2 separate regions of the Homo sapiens genome follow, and region 2 is linked to region 1. A link means that fine-mapping ties the variant in region 1 to the expression of a gene that starts in the linked region. Tissue or cell type: whole blood. Region 1 holds a variant in brackets; the other region holds the start of a gene. All regions are shown on one strand. Distances are between the middles of the regions.

What was found. PIP is the estimated chance that this variant, and not a neighbour inherited with it, causes the effect.
Region 2: PCGF2 starts here. The variant in region 1 is fine-mapped to the expression of PCGF2 in whole blood (INTERVAL, PIP above 0.99).

What each region holds. Positions count from the first base shown.
Region 1 is chr17:38,851,727-38,859,825 of GRCh38, reverse strand. It overlaps RPL23 (ribosomal protein L23), which reads left to right and starts at 6,105. Exons shown (of 5, transcript NM_000978.4): 1 at 6,105-6,128; 2 at 6,721-6,804; 3 at 7,094-7,222. The coding sequence starts at 6,116. It overlaps SNORA21 (small nucleolar RNA, H/ACA box 21), which reads left to right and starts at 6,831; the gene lies at 6,831-6,963. It also overlaps the pseudogene RPS20P35. RefSeq lists enhancers at 5,852-5,961, 5,685-6,468, 5,959-7,158, 6,469-7,252. The variant AG/G (reference allele first, on the strand shown) is at 4,101.
Region 2 is chr17:38,744,503-38,752,601 of GRCh38, reverse strand. PCGF2 (polycomb group ring finger 2) reads left to right here and starts at 4,266. Exons shown (of 11, transcript NM_007144.3): 1 at 4,266-4,406; 2 at 4,631-4,723. TRN-GTT2-5 (tRNA-Asn (anticodon GTT) 2-5) reads left to right here and starts at 748; the gene lies at 748-821. It overlaps LOC100287808 (a long non-coding RNA gene), which reads right to left and starts at 3,568. Exons shown (of 1, transcript NR_149004.1): 1 at 850-3,568. RefSeq lists enhancers at 4,133-4,668, 5,697-6,461, 6,462-7,227.

The sequences.
Region 1 (8,099 bases):
TTGCACTCCAGCCTGGGCAACAAGAGCAAAACTTCGTCTCAAAAAAAAAAAAAGGGCCGGGCACAGTGGCTCACGCCTGTAATCCCAGCACTTTGGGAGGCCGAGGCGGATGGATCACCTGAGTTCAGGAATTTGAGACCAGACTAGCCAACATGGTGAAACCCCGTCTCTACTAAAAATATAAAAAAATTAGCCGGGCGTGGTAGTGGGCGCCTGTAATCCTAGCTACTCAGGAGGCTAAGGCAGGAGAATTGCTTGAACCCAGGAGATGGAGGTTGCAGTGAGCCAACATGGTCCCACTGCACTCCAGCCTGGGTGACAGAGTGAGATTCTGTCTTAAAAAAAAAAAAAAAAAAAAAAGAGTGTAAAGGGGTCTAAAATGAAAATATTTGAGAACCACAGCTCCTAGTAAAGAAGTGGCTCAGAGAATAAACTGCTGGGGTTGTGAAACGGCTCAGAGAAGAAATGATACCTGAGCAGAGTTTTAAAGAACAGGTTGGACGGGCATGGTGGCTCACACCTGTAATCCTAGCACTTTGGGAGGCTGAGGCAGGTGGATCATTTGAGGTCAGGAGTTCGAGACTAGCCTGACCAACATGGTAAAATCCCCATCTCTACTAAAAATACAAAAAAAAAAAAAAATTAGCTGGCCATGGTGGTGTACACCTGTAATTCCAGCTACTTGGGAGGCCGAAGCAGGAGAATCACTTGAATCCTGGAGGCAAAGGTTGCAGTGAGCTGAGATGGTGCCATTACACCCCAGCCTGGGCAACAAGAGTGAAACTCTGTCTCAAAATAAATAAATAAATAAATAACACATAGTGGCTAAAGCAGGTGAATGCATAAATACAAGAAAGTGTGAATCTAAGCTATATGTCCAGAAATCCTAACTGGTTTGGTGTTTCTGGTGTGTGAAATATAAGAGGCAAGGTGGCAGAAGATGGAGCCAGGGAAGAGGTAGGCCATTTCAAGTGACTTCGATGCTTAAACAGCTTGGACTGTATTCTATAAGTACCAGAGGGTCGGTACATGTTTTTTGTTTTGTTTTCTTGTTTTTTTTTTTTTTTTTTTTCCTTGAGATGGAGTCTCACTGCATGCCCAGGCTGGAGTGCGGTGGGGCAACCTCGGCTCACTGCAACTCTGCCTCCTGGGTTCAAGCAATTCTTCTGCTTAGCCTCCTGAATACCTGGGATCACAGGTGCGTGCCATCACCCCTGACTAATTTTTGTATTTTTATTAGAGACAGGGTTTCACCATGTTGGCCAGGCTGGTCTCAAACTCCTGGCCTCGGGTGATCTGCCTGCCTCGGCCTCCCAAAGTGCTGGGATTACAGGTGTGAGCCACCATGCCTGGCCAGCACATGATTTTAAGCAGTGGGAAATTATGGTCTGACCATATAGAGGCCGATGCAATAGCTTTGAAACAAAGGCAGAACGTGGAAGGCATGGGCAGAAAAATTTAGGAAACAGAGTCAAGTTGATAGACCTTGGTGACTACTTCTAGGAGCCTGGGAGAAGAGAATTAATTGTGTCCCTGTTTTTTGGTTGAGACACTGGTGGTAGTACCAACCAGGAACACTATTCCTCCTATAACCATAGCCTTCTCCATCTTGGTTGACGGCAATGATATCTTCCAATTGCTCAGGCCTAAAGACTTGGAGACATTTTGATTCCTATCTTTCATACCCCACATTTTATTGGCTCTACCTCCAAAACACATCCAGAATCTGACTACATTACATCCACTACTACCATTCTAGTCCAAACCACCATCATTTCTCTCCTGGGTTACTGCAATAGCTTCCTAATGGATCTTCTTACTTCTATCCCTGTGTCCTCTCCCACAGTGTAGTCTCAACAACTCAACCACAGTGATCCTTCTGACACATTAGTCAAATCATGTCCCTCCTCTGCTTAAAATCAAAGAATGTTTCCTCATTTCACTCAGCCAATGCCAAAGTCCACAGTGGTTTCATTCCATGACTTCCTTTTTTTGAGACAGAACTCTCGCTCTGTCACCTAGGCTGGAGTGCAATGGTGTGATCTCGGCTCACTGCAACCTCTGCCTCCCAGGTTCACATGATTCTCCCACCTCAACCCACCAAGTAGCTGGGATTACAGGCACCTGCCATCATGCATGGTTAATTTTTGTATTTTTGTAGAGACAGGGTTTCACCATGTTGGCCAGGCTGGTCTTGAACTCCTGACCTCAGGTTATCACCTGCCTTGGCCTCCTAAAGTGCTGGGATTACAGGTGTGAGCCACCGTTCCATTACTTCTGACTGCATTTCTTACTACTTTGCTCTTTACTCGTCCTGTCCAGTCACATCTGGCTTCCTTGCTGGTGCTCATTCGGTTCAGTCACACCCCTGCCTTAGGGCTTTTTATTGGAAAATGACAAAGGGTTTCTCTCTGTAGCCCAGGTTGGAGTGCAGTGGTGCAATCACGGCTCACTGCAGTCCCCAATTCCTGGGTTTAAGTGATTCTCCTGCCTCAGATTCCCATGCCACCAGCTTATTTTATTTTATTTTATTTTAAGACAGAGTCTCGCTCTGTTGCTCAGGCTGGAGTGCAGTGGCGCAATCTGGGCTCACTGCAACCTCCGCCTCCCGGCTTCAAACAATTCTCCTGTCTCAGATTCCTGGGTACTTGGGATTACAGGTTGCCCACCACCATGCCCAGCTGATTTTTGTATTTTTAGTAGAGATGGGGTTTCACCATGACGGGCAGGCTGGTCTCAAATTTCTGACCTCAGATGATCTGCCTGCCTCAGCCTCCCAAAGTGCTGGGATTACAGGCATGAGCCACTGTACCCAGCCGCCACCAGCTAATTTTTAAATGTTTTGTAGAGATGGACTCTCCCTATGTTGCCCAGGCAGGTCTCAGACTCCTGGGCTCAAGGGATCCTCCTGCTTCAACCTCCCAAATTGTTTCGGGATTATAGATGTGAGCCACTGTGCCTGGTTTCATGTCAATATCTTTTTTTTTTTTTTTTTGAGACGGAATCTTGCTCTGTCACCCAGGCTAGAGTGCACTGGCGCGATCTCGGCTCACTGCAACCTCCACCTCCTGGGTTCCAGTGATTCTCGTGCCTCAGCCTCCCGAGTAGCTGGGGACTGCAGGCACGCACCACGCCTGGCTAATTTTTTGTATTTTTAGTAGAGACAGGGTTTCGCCATGTTGCTTGGGCTGGGTCTTCAGCTCCTGAGCTGAGGCAGTCTACCAGCCTCGGCCTCCCAAAGTGCTAGAATTACCGGCATGAGCCACCATGCCTTGCTAATTTTTGTATTTTTAGTAGAGACAGAGTTTTGCTATTTAGGGCAAGCTGGTCTCTGACTCCTGACCTCAAGTAATACACCCACCTTGGCCTCCCAAAGTGATGGAATTACAGGCATGAGCCACCACACCTGGCCCCATTTTTGTTTTGTTTTGTTTTTTTTTTTTTGAGACAGAGTTTCAAACGCTCTTGTTGCCCAGGCTGGAGTGCAATGGTGCAATCTCAGCTCACTGAAACCTCCACCTCCCGGGTTTCAAGAGATTCTCCTGCCTCAGCCTCCTGAGTAGCTGGGATTACAGGCATGTGCCACCACGCCCAGCTAATTTTGTATTTTTAGTAGAGATGGGGTTTCTCCAAGTTGGTCGTCAGGCTGGTCTCAAACTCCCGACCTCAGGTGATCCGACCGCCTCGGCCTCCCAAGGCGCTGGGATTACAGGCGTGAACCACTGCGCCTGGCTAATGTTTGTATTGTTGTAGAAACGAGGTTTCACCATTTTGGCCAGGTTGGTCTCGAACTCCTGACCTCAGGTGATCTGCCCGCCTTGGCCTCCCAAAGTGCTGGGATTACAGGCGTGAGCCAGCGCGCCCGGCCGATTACCAGTTGTTTTTAATATAGATAAATACATAGAGATAGATATATCTCTATCTATCTCTATAGATATATATCTCTATAGAGATAGAGAGAGAGAGAGAGATAGATAGAGATAGATAGATAGATATCGGCCGTGGAGGTTGCGGTGAGCCAAGATCGCGCCACTGCACTCCAGCCTGGGCAACAAGAGCGAAACTCCGTCTCAAAAAAAAAAAAGAAAGAAAGAAAGAAA[AG/G]AAAGAAAAGAAAAAGAAAAAAAAACTGGTAATCAATTTATTAAAATAGTTGACTTAAGCATCTGCAATGGTGACTTCCACCTCAACTCCTGGCTCAATACTGATGGAAGTAATCTGCTTAACAATCTCAGAAGGACTGTGCAAGTCAATGAGTCACTTGTGGATTCTCATCTGGAAATGATCCCATGTCTTAGAACCTTCACCACAAAGTTTTTCTTGAAGTGATTCTCAAAGTCTTGGCAGGCATTCGAACTGGTCCTTTCACTTTGAGATTATTTTCCTTTGCTCCTCTGATCAAGTCAGCACACACCTTCTCCAGGGATTTTACGATGCGGCTCGTTAGAGTGACTCGAATTCGTGAATTGCCACCTCCGCCTCCCTGGGTGTTTTTCCGGTATCCTTAAAAGCCATGGCTGCTGCGCGGCTTCCTGAGCGACTGGTTCCTCGGCGAGGGCGAACAGCGGTGAGTCAGTAGCAGGAGCGTGCGGATCAGCGATCCGCAACACCTACGACCGCGTCTTCCTCAAAGAGCTATTTATCTATATACATTTTTGAGACGGAGTCTAGCTCTGTCGCCCAGGCTGGAGTGCAGTAGCGCGATCTCGGCTCACTGCCGCCTCTGCCTTCTGGGTTCAAGCGATTCTCCTGCCTCAGCCTCCGGAGTAGCTGGGATTACAGGCGCCCGCCACCACGCCCAGCTAATTTTTGTATTTTTAGTAGAGACGGAGTTTCCCTGTGTTGGCCAGGCTAGTCTCGATCTCCTGACCTCGTGATCCACCCGCCTCGGCCTCCCAAAGTGCTGGGATTACAAGCGTGAGCCACAAGGCCCGGCCACTATTTATATTTTACACTTGATCTTGGCCAAAAGGCCGAGAAGCGATACTATTTATATTTTTATAATACATATCCCCATCTAACATACTACATACTGCAATTACTTATTATATCTTTTGTTTAGTGTCTAATATCCTCCTCCACCTGCACCCCAGCAGAATGTAAGCTCCATAAGGAAAAGAATGTTGATCTATTTTGTTCTCTGATGTAATCCGCTGTACGCCCTGGACAGAACCTGCTGTAAAGTAGGAGCTCAATAAGTATGTGAATTAATGTATCGTGGGAAGGAAAGAACCCAGAGAATAAGGGGCGGCTGAAGCTGTGAAAGGAGCAATTAGGCCTGGCGCGGGGGCTCACGCCTGTAATCCCAGCACTTTGAGGGACCAAGGCGGGCAGATCACTTGAGATCAGAAGTTCGAGACCAGCCTGGCCAATAACATGGCGAAACCCCGTCTCTACTAAAAATACAAAAATTAGCCCAGCGTTGTGGCGGGCGCCTGTGGTCTCAGGTACTCTGAGGCTGAGACAGAGAATTGCTTGAACCCGGAAGACGGAGGTTGCAGTGAGCTGAGATCTCGCCACTATACTCCAGCCTGGGCGACAGAGTGAGACTCGGTCTCAAAAAAAGAAAAAAAGAGTGTGTGTTGGGGGGGACGGGTCAATAAATAGAGCAATACTGTATATGTAAAATACAGAATGGTATGATACCAAGAACACATAGATGGAATGATCTGCAGCACTTCTCAACTGTATTACATTCAACGAAACCGTTTAGAGCTTGTTCTCCCTCCCTCCCCCACTTTCTTTGTTCCTTGGGGAACCCCCACACGGCACAAACCGTGTTTTAATTCCTATTCTCTAGTGTGCAGATAAGTGCCTGGCACTATTAAGTGGTCAAAAGAGGTCGTGAGCAAGTTAACAAATCACTGTTTCCATGTCCCTAACTACTCTTAAGCTCGTAGAGAAGATACTTCCTATCTCTTGCGCTTCTACCTCAACTCCCACTTCGCAGAGAGGGCTAAAAGCGACGTCGTAAACTTATTACGTAATAAGGCAGCGCCCAGAGGCGGAAGAGGCCGGTTTTTGCTCCGGCCACGTGAGGAGGGTGGGCGGGGCGTTAAAGTTCATATCCCAGTGTCCTTTGAATCGACTTCCTTTTTTCTTTTTTCCGGCGTTCAAGATGTCGAAGCGAGGTGAGGTTTTGTTTCTGGAGGATCCTCCACCATCTGTCGTGCAGTGGCTGGCGGATTCGTCAGGAGCGGTGGCCCTAGGCAGCTGGGGCGCTTTGCTCTCCTTCAGGCCGGAGAGAGAGAGCCAGGCCACCGCGAGAGCACTGCCAGGGCCCTCGAAAGTGGCAGTGGGGTGCTGGAGAGTTGAGATGGCAGGATCCCGACGTGAATGTAGTCTGGATACCGCGAGATCGCTCCGCGAATAGGGCTATCGTAATGGGGTTGAAGTTAGACTGGATTAGGCCCTGGTTTGCGCGACCTCTGCGGTTTTATGCCTTGCAGGAGTAATTGCGTTTTGCGAAAGTTAGAGCAAGGGTTGAGTCGTCTAGGTTTCTTAATTTCGATGTCAGAGTGTTAATAGTAAGAAATAGGCTACTTTCCGTGAGAATCGGGTGGCACATGGGGACGGCATAAGTAAAATCCGAGCGAGCTAATCTATAGCGTACAGTCTATCAAAGCATGTGCGGTGAATTACAGCTTGAGTATGAGGGGGAACTCCGAACCATGTCTAGATTGTGATCTCTTTATCCTGTTTCCCTTCCCTTTATATCCACAGGACGTGGTGGGTCCTCTGGTGCGAAATTCCGGATTTCCTTGGGTCTTCCGGTAGGAGCTGTAATCAATTGTGCTGACAACACAGGTGAGGTCTTTGCACGTTGCTATACTCCCCCTTTTAAAAGCACTCAATGGGCCTGTGGCTAATGACCTATTGAGCCGTCAAGAAAGGGGAGAGTGAAAACATCGCTTTTGGGTGAAGTGGCAACATGTGTTGTTTGCTTCAATCGGTGGTGTGACAAGGCGTTCTTGCGGACTAACTGCTTGGGCAGTGAGTGGAGGGAGGGGCTTTGGAAGTGTTTGGGAAATGTTATACTGATGGAACGGCCTGATGGCCCTCAACATTTTTTATTTTTATTTACATTCTTTTGTAGGAGCCAAAAACCTGTATATCATCTCCGTGAAGGGGATCAAGGGACGGCTGAACAGACTTCCCGCTGCTGGTGTGGGTGACATGGTGATGGCCACAGTCAAGAAAGGCAAACCAGAGCTCAGAAAAAAGGGTGAGTAAACACTGAGCCCACCTTAATACTGATGAGTAGTGGGGGGACGCTTTCCTTTATTGGAAAATGGATCAGTTTTCAAGGCCTCAAGTTTGTTTTCCATTGAGAGGCAGTGTGAGATAAGTATCTTAAGTTTTTGCTCATATTGTGTTGGAGGGGGGACCATCATCTTGTCACTTCCATACCTTAGTTGTTTTTTTGTTGTTGTTTTTGTTTTGTTTTGTTTTGTTTTTTGAGATGGAGTCTCTCTCTGTCGCCCAGCCCATACTGGAGTGCAATGGCACGATCTTGGCTCACTGCAACCTCCGCCTCCTGGGCTCTCAAAAAAAAATATATTACAAAACGAAAACAAGCTGCCCGTTGCTTATTTTATTATTTGTTTTTGAGATGGAGTCTCACTTGTTGCCCAGGCTGGAGTGCAGTGGCACATATCTGTTCACTGCAACCTCCACCTCCCGGGCTCAAGAGATTGTCCTGCCTCAGCCTCCCGAGTAGCTGGGATCATAGGTGTGCACCACCACACCCGGCTAATTGCTCATTACTTAATCTCAGGCTCCCCACTCAAAATTTTTCCTGTCAGGTGTATGATTTAAAGGGGGAGGCCTCAAAATACTTGCAGCTTGTGTCCTGTCTGGCTTTAGAACTTCTGGTGTTTGGTGCATTTTAACTTCAGCGCTTGCACTTTTTTCCTGTGCCTGCCTAATCTGTCTCTACCCTGGGATGTCTTGCTCTTCTAAAGAGTTCCTGGCCATCCCTTGATTTACAAATGTGATGTTGATTTGTCAGCCCTGTATTACAGTTACTCCTATTCCTGTATCCACCCCACGATGCTGTCCAGTAGATTTTTAGCCTTTGGGTTAGAAATTGTTTTTTGTTC
Region 2 (8,099 bases), 110 kb after region 1:
TGTGGCTGCGGAAGAGACTTGCGACACGGTGCATAGTGGGATCTCGGCGGACCTGGACTCGGGACCTCAGGGACTGGGGGCGGAGCCTGCGCGCACGTGGGCTGGTGAAACTGGGTTTAGGAAGCTGCGGCCCCAGCTGAAGGGGCACCGTGACGCTTATCAACGTGATGTATGAGTTCGTCGTATTAGTCGTGCTAGCTTATTTATTCACTCCAGAAATCCTGCGTTTACTGTGTACCAGGCACTTGCCTAGGCTCGGAATATTCACTGGCCCACAACAGTGCCTAGTATATAGGAGGCGCCCATTAAATGGAAATTTAATGATGCAGGTGGGAAGGGGAAGGCGTCGCGTGTAGGCGTCGCGGGTATTTTGCGGCTGCAGGGGTTCAGCTGTGAAAGGGAGTTTGGAAGCCGAAGCTTGTTCTGATTTGGGGGACTTCCTGCGGCCCGACTTCACGTATCCTCAATCTCAGGTCACCCTAAAAAGGGACGTTCCGCGCCTCTCCACGTTTGAGGTAGAACCTGAGGATAGCCAGAGTCGACCTCTCGCCGTTCCAATGGAGGAAGGGCGTGCACGTCCCGCGTCCTCTCCTCCCAAGCTCTTTCGCCTCCCTCCCCCATCAGGATCCTTCCCTTTCTCCCCCGGGTTCCACTTATTTCGCCCGATGGCGGCATCTCTTACGGCGTCTGCGCCGTCCAGGCTCGCTCCCATTGACTCGGCTCACTACTACGCCGGTAGTCGACTCGGTCTCTGTGGCGCAATCGGTTAGCGCGTTCGGCTGTTAACCGAAAGGTTGGTGGTTCGAGCCCACCCAGGGACGCTATGACCTTTTTTTTTTTTTTTTTTGTCTTTTGGGTTTTTTTTTTCTCCCCGGAAGATAAAAACCTAAGCCTTTTACTCAAAAGCCAAATTTTGCATTGAAATGGCAGCAGCAATACTTTTTCTAGGAGAATCACTGTTCTTGAAAATTCTTTGCTGCTCAGTCAATAATGGGATAATTTCTCCAGCACTTCCCTCCACACCCCCCCAACCCGCCTCCAAGCTAGATCGCAGGAAACCTAAAGACACAGGTTTTTGTCTCACTGTGCATGCAACACGTTTCAGGATGCATTTTTTCATAGGATTAAGAATGAATTTACAGTGGAGGTTCGACAGTTTTCTATTGTCTGCCTCAATCGATATTACAGTCTCCAAATACTACATTTGGAAGGGAAGAGAATGAGAGAGACACAGAGAGAGAAACAAGTATGAAGAGAAACAAAGGTGAGAAAGGGAGAACATTGTTGTGATACAGGGAAAGAAGGGACGTGACAGAACTAGGCAGGGTGGGTAGGGGAAGACCTCAAGACAATGGAGAGTGGGAAAATAGACGCATTTAATATTAGAAGCATCAGAAAAAAAGGAAAACAACACATTTTTTCCCCCTAGAACTACACAGGGAGGTGGGGGAGGAAGATGGGGAAATAGAAGGAGAAACTGACTAAGGACCTTGTTTGGGGGAGATAAAAGGTATAAAGGACACAGAGGTAAAGACGTTCCGGAAAGCTCTAGAGGAGCCGCCCTCTCCTGTCTCGTCACCATTTTTAAAGGGATCTGATCCTCGCAATAGCTCTTGGTATATGCTGGAGGTAATTGCCTAGATTTCCCGCGTTCCTGTCCTCTGCGAGTCTCTGGCTTGTGACAGCCACTGTGACTCTTCTGATGCACTTGTCAGCTAGAGGACCGCGTGAGATGCAAACACAAAATCAAGGGGCGCCTAATGTCTGACGAGGCGCATTCCTGGGCGCAGTGGGAGCCTCGACCTTTGTGGAGGAGAATGTGCAAAGCACTCTTGAGCAGTTCTCATAGACACTTGGTCTCTGCAGATTCGGCTCAAAGGAGGCCTCTTCTGGAAGCCCACCCCAGTACTCACCCACCCTTAGCGGGAGCTCACACCAGAAGCGATGGGCGCTAAAGGGACAGGCTGTGTGTCCTTCAGGGTTTGCACCCACCGGCCTGTGAGCGCCCTGCGCAAAAGCCAGGCTCCTGTGCCTTGAGTTCCCAGTTCCTAGCGCAGTATTTGACACTGGCACATGACAGGTGCTTTCTATGTCGGCTAGTAGTAGAACAAAAGACTAGGAAACTCTTTCGATGTGGGAAGAGTTGGGTCAGAAGGTTCTCCTGAGAAACCAGAAAGGCCAGGAATGTGGAGACTAGTCATCCAGGACGCAAAAGATGAAAATGGAGTTTTAGTGGGTAATAGGGTCTTAGCACACTCCTCTCTAGCGGTTCTCTCCTGTCTGGCGCTTAACAACCGAAGAATAAGTGGATGGACCCCGGTGGCCCCTCGGGCAGCCCTCCAGGATTCATGGGCCGCAGAGGAACGTCAACCCCCTTCCCACTGGCTGATAATGCCCCGAGGGGCAGCCCCCCAGGTGCCCATGTGGTTGGTGGGTGGGATCCAGATCTCCGCAGAGCCCCTGTTACAGGTTTCTCTTGTTCGGGGTCTTGTAGCCAGAGAGGGGCGGCTGACTGGGAGTCCTTCCCGCGTTCCCCTCCCTGCAGAGCGAGTGGATGCGCGTCTTCCCCGGCAGAGTGCAGGATGCCGGCGACACATTTGCCTGGGAACAGTGGGAGGGTCCCCTTTCCTCCGGGGCCGGTGAACTACTCGCCTCTCCGCCTGCAGGCTCCGGAGCAGGTGACCGGATCTTCCCTTGGCCCTTCTCCCGCCGGTTCTCGGACCACTCCCTCTGGAAGGAAGTCTCTCCGCCCTTCCTCTTCCTCCCCGCCCCCGTCCCGCTGGTGTGGCTGCAGGCTCGAGCTGGGGTCACTCGGCGGCCAGTGTGCGCAGGTCTCCTGGTCGCCGGCCAGAGGGCGAAAGCATTCACCCGAGGCCCCCAGCTTCGCGGCTGCCTTGGCTGCGAGCAACGAGGGAAGAGGAGGCAGGCGCTCCAAAACTGGGCGAAGATTCCTATCCTAATTTCTAACTCGAGCCTCCCACCGTCAGTGCGCTTAATGGCGCTGCTGGCCGGATGGATAATCGAGCTCTCTGGAGGGACAGACGCGGCCGCCATCCCTAATAAATCGTGAATAACGAATGAGGGAATCGACCATCCTCATGAGGCCCACGGGCGTCCAGTAACGCAGTATCGATTCGCTTCCCCGGCGTCGGCCTCACCGCTACTCCCGGCGTTTCCAAGCCTCCCTCCTCGTTCTCTCCCTCCTGCCGGAGCCACTGCGGACCGGAGCCCCAGCGCCAGGTGGAGCCGGGGCGCCAGTGGGAGTCGGGCCCAGCCGTCTTGGCGCTCGCCCGACTCTCCCGCCCGCGCGCCCAGGGAGGCGCACAGGCAGCGCGCAGCGCAGGGCGCGAGCGAAAAATGCGGGAATCAGCGCCAGGCAGGAGAAAAGGCGCGGGCCCACCTTACAGCCCGGCGCCTCGTTTCCTAGTCCAGTGTGGCCGCTCGCCTTCGGCCGGATTATTGTGTCCCAGACCCGGAGCCTGAGTTCCCATCCTCAGCGGGCCTCCGTTCTTCTCTGCCCGAGCACGCCGGGGGCGCAGCCTCCGCCAGAGCTACCCGATCCCCCCGCGGCGAGGCCCCCCACCCGGCCTCACCCCGCACCTCCACTCCCCTCTCGCGATTGCTCCCTGCCAGGCGCCCAGGCTGGATCCTGGTGCGCCGCTTTTCGGGGCCAGCGCCCCTGCCGCCGAGGGGGCAAGGGGAGTGGGGAGGACACGCTCGCCCTCCCAGATGCAGTTATTAATTTTAAGGGAGTGTCACTTGGAGTGAATGAAAATCGCTCGGACGCCTGGCTGAAGGCGTCGCGTCCCCCGCCGGAGCCCCGCGCCCTTTGGTCTAGGCCGGGGCGTGGAGGACCACGAGCCACCTTTCAGCCCAGTCCCCATTTCACCATTTTCCAGGCGCCCCAGTTAGGGATGGGCATCACAGTGTCAGTGGGGGGAACCCATATTTTGAAGGGAGGGGGGCTAACTGCGGAAGGTAACATAAGAGAATCCATCCTCCGGGGTCGGGGCGGCCGCATGGGAAGGGAGGGGTCTCGTCCTGGCTAGGGACCCGGCAGCCGGTGGCGGGGAGCGGCCGCGCCAGCCTCCCCCTCCTCTTCCCGTCTCTGCCAGCATCCTGAAGGAATGAGGTCACGTGGGTGAGTGGTGGGCGGGACCTACTCTTGTCTGGAGGAAAAAAGCCATTTTGTCTCCCCCCCACACTCCGGTCCCTCCCCTCCCCCCTCGGTCCCCTCCCCTCCCCTCTCCCTCCCACCCCAAGCCGCTTTCACAAACTCCTTTCTTACCGTAGGTTTCTCCCCTCCCGCCGCCCGGGCGAGCGACACGGCTGCGGCCCCCCTCCCCTCCCTTCCCTCCCTCCCTCCCATCCCCCCCTCCCCGAGACCCACCGGACCCCGAACCCAGGTAAGCGGAGCGGACTCCCCCTGCCTTTCCCTCTCCTGGCCTGTAACCCTCTGGGGATTGGGATGGGGGCCGGCCGTTCTTCGCAAGCCCCGATGGGAGGGGGAGGCTCTGAGCCGATCCTGCCTTCGCACCCCCCGCGCCCCGTCAGTCCCTAGCCCAGCTTGCCCCGTCCGCCTTTCTTTCTCCCTTTTTTCTGTCCCTTTTTCCCTTTCCTCTCTTCCAAGATGGCCGAAACGGGCTCCCCGTCTTAACGATTTGGCGTCTCCCTCGACCACCACCTCTTTGTGCAGCAGCCCCCGGGCAGACCCTGTTCCGAGGTAGCGAGGGGGAAGGTCCGGGGCAGCCGGGAGGGCTTGCGGGATGCGCGCTGGGTTGGGTCGCCGCTCCCCACGAGCCAAAGCCGCCTCTCGCTCTGCCCGGTCTACCCCCTTTTCCATCTGGGCGGGGGTCGCTCTCCCGTGGGCACAGGGGCGCCGTGGACGCGCGGGGACTTGGGGCCGGCAGAAGGGGATGTGCTTTGGGGCGGCCGCGAGGCCGGGGGAGGGCGCCCTTCCCCGCCGGGGTCCGGGTCCTCTCGGGCACCTCCCCCCGCCGGTCCCCGCTCCCCGTCCCGGCGCCGGCGCCCCGCCCCCTCCCCGAACCACCTCAGCAGAGCCTCCCTCCGGAACACCCCTCCCGGGGCCCCGCAGAAAGTTTGGCTCTAGGGAAGGTGGGAGCGGCCACCCGGTAACTGGGGTCCCTGATCCTTGGACATGGGCTCCTGGGGAAGCCCGGGCGCTGGGGGTAGAATGGGGATGGAGGGAAATTTATCGCAATATTTCCCATCGCCAGCGGAAGCAGGGGGATCTGCTAAACTGGCCCCCCTTCCCCTGGGACGCCCAGCCACCCCACCCTGCGCACGCCCTCCTACTGCTAGCTCTGAGGGCGTGGGACCCCCGGGCAAGCAGACACCCCCTGCCTGTCTCCACGGTGGGCCCGGGCTGCCCCTCGCCCTCCCCCACTGCCCCTGTCTGCCCATAATCGCTCCGGTTGGCTTGAGGTGGGAGGAGGCGGCATGGAGGCGGGTGGATTTGCCAGTGAATATTGTGGAAGTGTTACCCAGCGCTTCCCGAGATCTTTGTCCCTCAGTGTCCCCCATGCTGCCTCAGTCTCCCCAGAGGTCTGTCTCGAGGGGAGGGCTGTCTCCTGGTTGTCCCCTCCCCGCTCTGTTCTGATGCCTCCTCCTCTGGGACCTCTGGCAGTTTCTGTTCCTGAAACTCTTTAATTTCTCTCCTCCCTCCCCCCTTCACTCTGGTCCAAGGTGTTATTACTGGGAGCATAAAGCCAGCTCTGTTGCAGCTTTTTGGTGGGAAGGTTTTCCCACGGGCTCCCCTGGTTGGGGGTTGGGGGATTGAGGCTTTAGAACTGACTTTGGAATGAAGCAGGAAACCAACCCCAGGATCCAGACCATGTGTAGCTAGGTAGGGTTCAAGTTGAAGTCTTGGGGGTTGGGCAGGAAGGGGGACTCTGCTGCCCCTGGCCTTGCCTGAGAGATCTTGGTTGATGGAGCTGTTGTCATGGGAATGGAGAGAGCCCGAACAGGAAGAGGGTACAGCTTTGTGCAGGTCACATGCCCACTGCAGCCCTCCAGCCTCTGGTCCCCAGAGCGGACTTTGGAAGCTGAACTGCTTTTGTTGCTGGAAGACTTATGTTATAATTTACCCTGGGTGGACCAGGGTCGTACAAAAGGTTAGTGTGTGTTTGCAGGGTCTGTTTCCAGGCAGGGATGTCAGGCTGTGTGCTTCTAGGTGGGGGGTGGATGTGGATGGCTTCTGCATGTAGCGAGGGTGGGCCTGGCTCTGGTCTGGCTGTGATTGTGTGTGTGTGTGGCGCAGGGTGGGGGAGGGTTGTGGCGTGTCTATCTGGCCTTGTGTGTAGTGAGTGTGAGAGGTGGAGGGGGGTGTGTCTTGCTGTATGTGTGTGTATCTGGCAATGTGTATATTTTGGGGTTTTGCCTTTGTTTGATCTTAGGGAGTTGAGAGGTGGGAGAGGGAGGAAGGGAGGGTTGAGTAAGCCCAGCTTCAGGAGGCCCTTTTCAATGCATGGTGGGGACAGGGGAGCAGATCTTTGTGCCATTGTCAAGGATTGGGGAAAGTTGGGAGGTTCACAGTGTCCCTAGGCAGACCCTCACGGCCCCAAACACAAATACAAGGGGCTTGCGCAGTTGGACCCACGAAGCTGGGAGAGGAACAGAGTCATAAAACCCCTGGTCTGAGTCTTGATGCTGTACTCTGGCTGGCTGTGCTTCCCTGCAGCCTCTGTTTCCCTATGTGTAGGAAGTGGGGTAAGGCAATTAACATGTGCCTCCTCTTCCTGCCTCAAGGCAGGAGTCCATGCTGATGGTCATGTTTGGGCCAGACTGACTCCCTCCCAGACGGCGGCCCACTGAGTGGTTTTCCCGCCACTCCAGGGAGCTGCTCTTTTCCCCTCCCACCTGCTGGGATGAAGCCGGGCATTACTGCTTTAGATGAGTGAGGAGCCTGGCCAGGTGCCAGGATGTTAAAAGCACTGGGGTGGGAGTCAGGCACTTTCTTGTCACAGGACTGCCACTGCTTTGCTTTGTGACCTTAGACAAGTCACATCTGAGTGTGCTCATCTGTAAAATGAAAGGATTGAACAGGTGCTTCTTTTTCTTTTTCTCTTTTTTTGAGATGGAGTTTCTTTCACTCTGTGGCCCAGCTTGGAGTGCAGTGGCACGATCTCCACTCACTGCAACCTCTGCCTCCCAGGTTCAAGCAATTCTCTGGCTCAGCCTCCTGAGTAGCTGGGATTACAGGCGCCTGCCACCATGCTCCGCTAATTTTTGTATTTTTGTTTGTTTGTTTGAGACAGAGTCTCGCTCTGTTGCCCAGGCTGGAGTGCAGTGGCGCAATCTCGGCTCACTGCAACCTCTGCCTCCTGGATTCAAGCGATTCTCCTGCCTCAGCCTCCCGAGTAGCTGGGACTAGAGGCGCGTGCCACCACACCCAACTAATGTTTTGTATTTTTAGTAGAGACGGGGTTTCACCATGTTAGCCAGGATGGTCTCGATCTCCTGACCTCATGATCCGCCCGTCTTGGCCTCCCGAAGTGCTGGGATTACGGACGTGAGCCACCATGTATTTTTAGTAGAGATGGGGTTTCACCATCTTTGCCAGCCTGGTTTTGAACTCCTGACCTCATGATCCATCCGCCTTGGCCTCCCAAAGTGTTGGGATTACAGGTGTGAGCCACCACGCCCAGCTGAACAAGGTGCTTTCTAAAAGCCCTTTCACCTCTGCAGTTCTAGACATCTGGATGTGACCTTGAGTGACTTTTCCCAAGACCTGGAGACATTCTAGTGAGGGAGTGGGGCTGATTTCATTTGGAGGCAGGGAGAGCAGAGAGAGCTATGGCATCAGAGAAGCACAGGGGCCTTGGGGCTGGGAGACCCACTGTTTCCACAGGGGACCATGAAGAAGTGAGAGAGGCCTAAATTGCAGGGTGGCTTCCAGAAAGACACTGGTTAAAATGGAGAGATGGGTCTGGGTGTGGTGGCTCATGCCTGTAATCCCAGCAGTTTGGGAGGCCGAGGCGGGCAGATCACTTGAGGCCAGGAGTTGGAAACCAGCCTGGCCAACATGGTGAAACCCTGTCTCTACTAAAAATACAAAAATTAGCCAGGTGTGGTGGCAC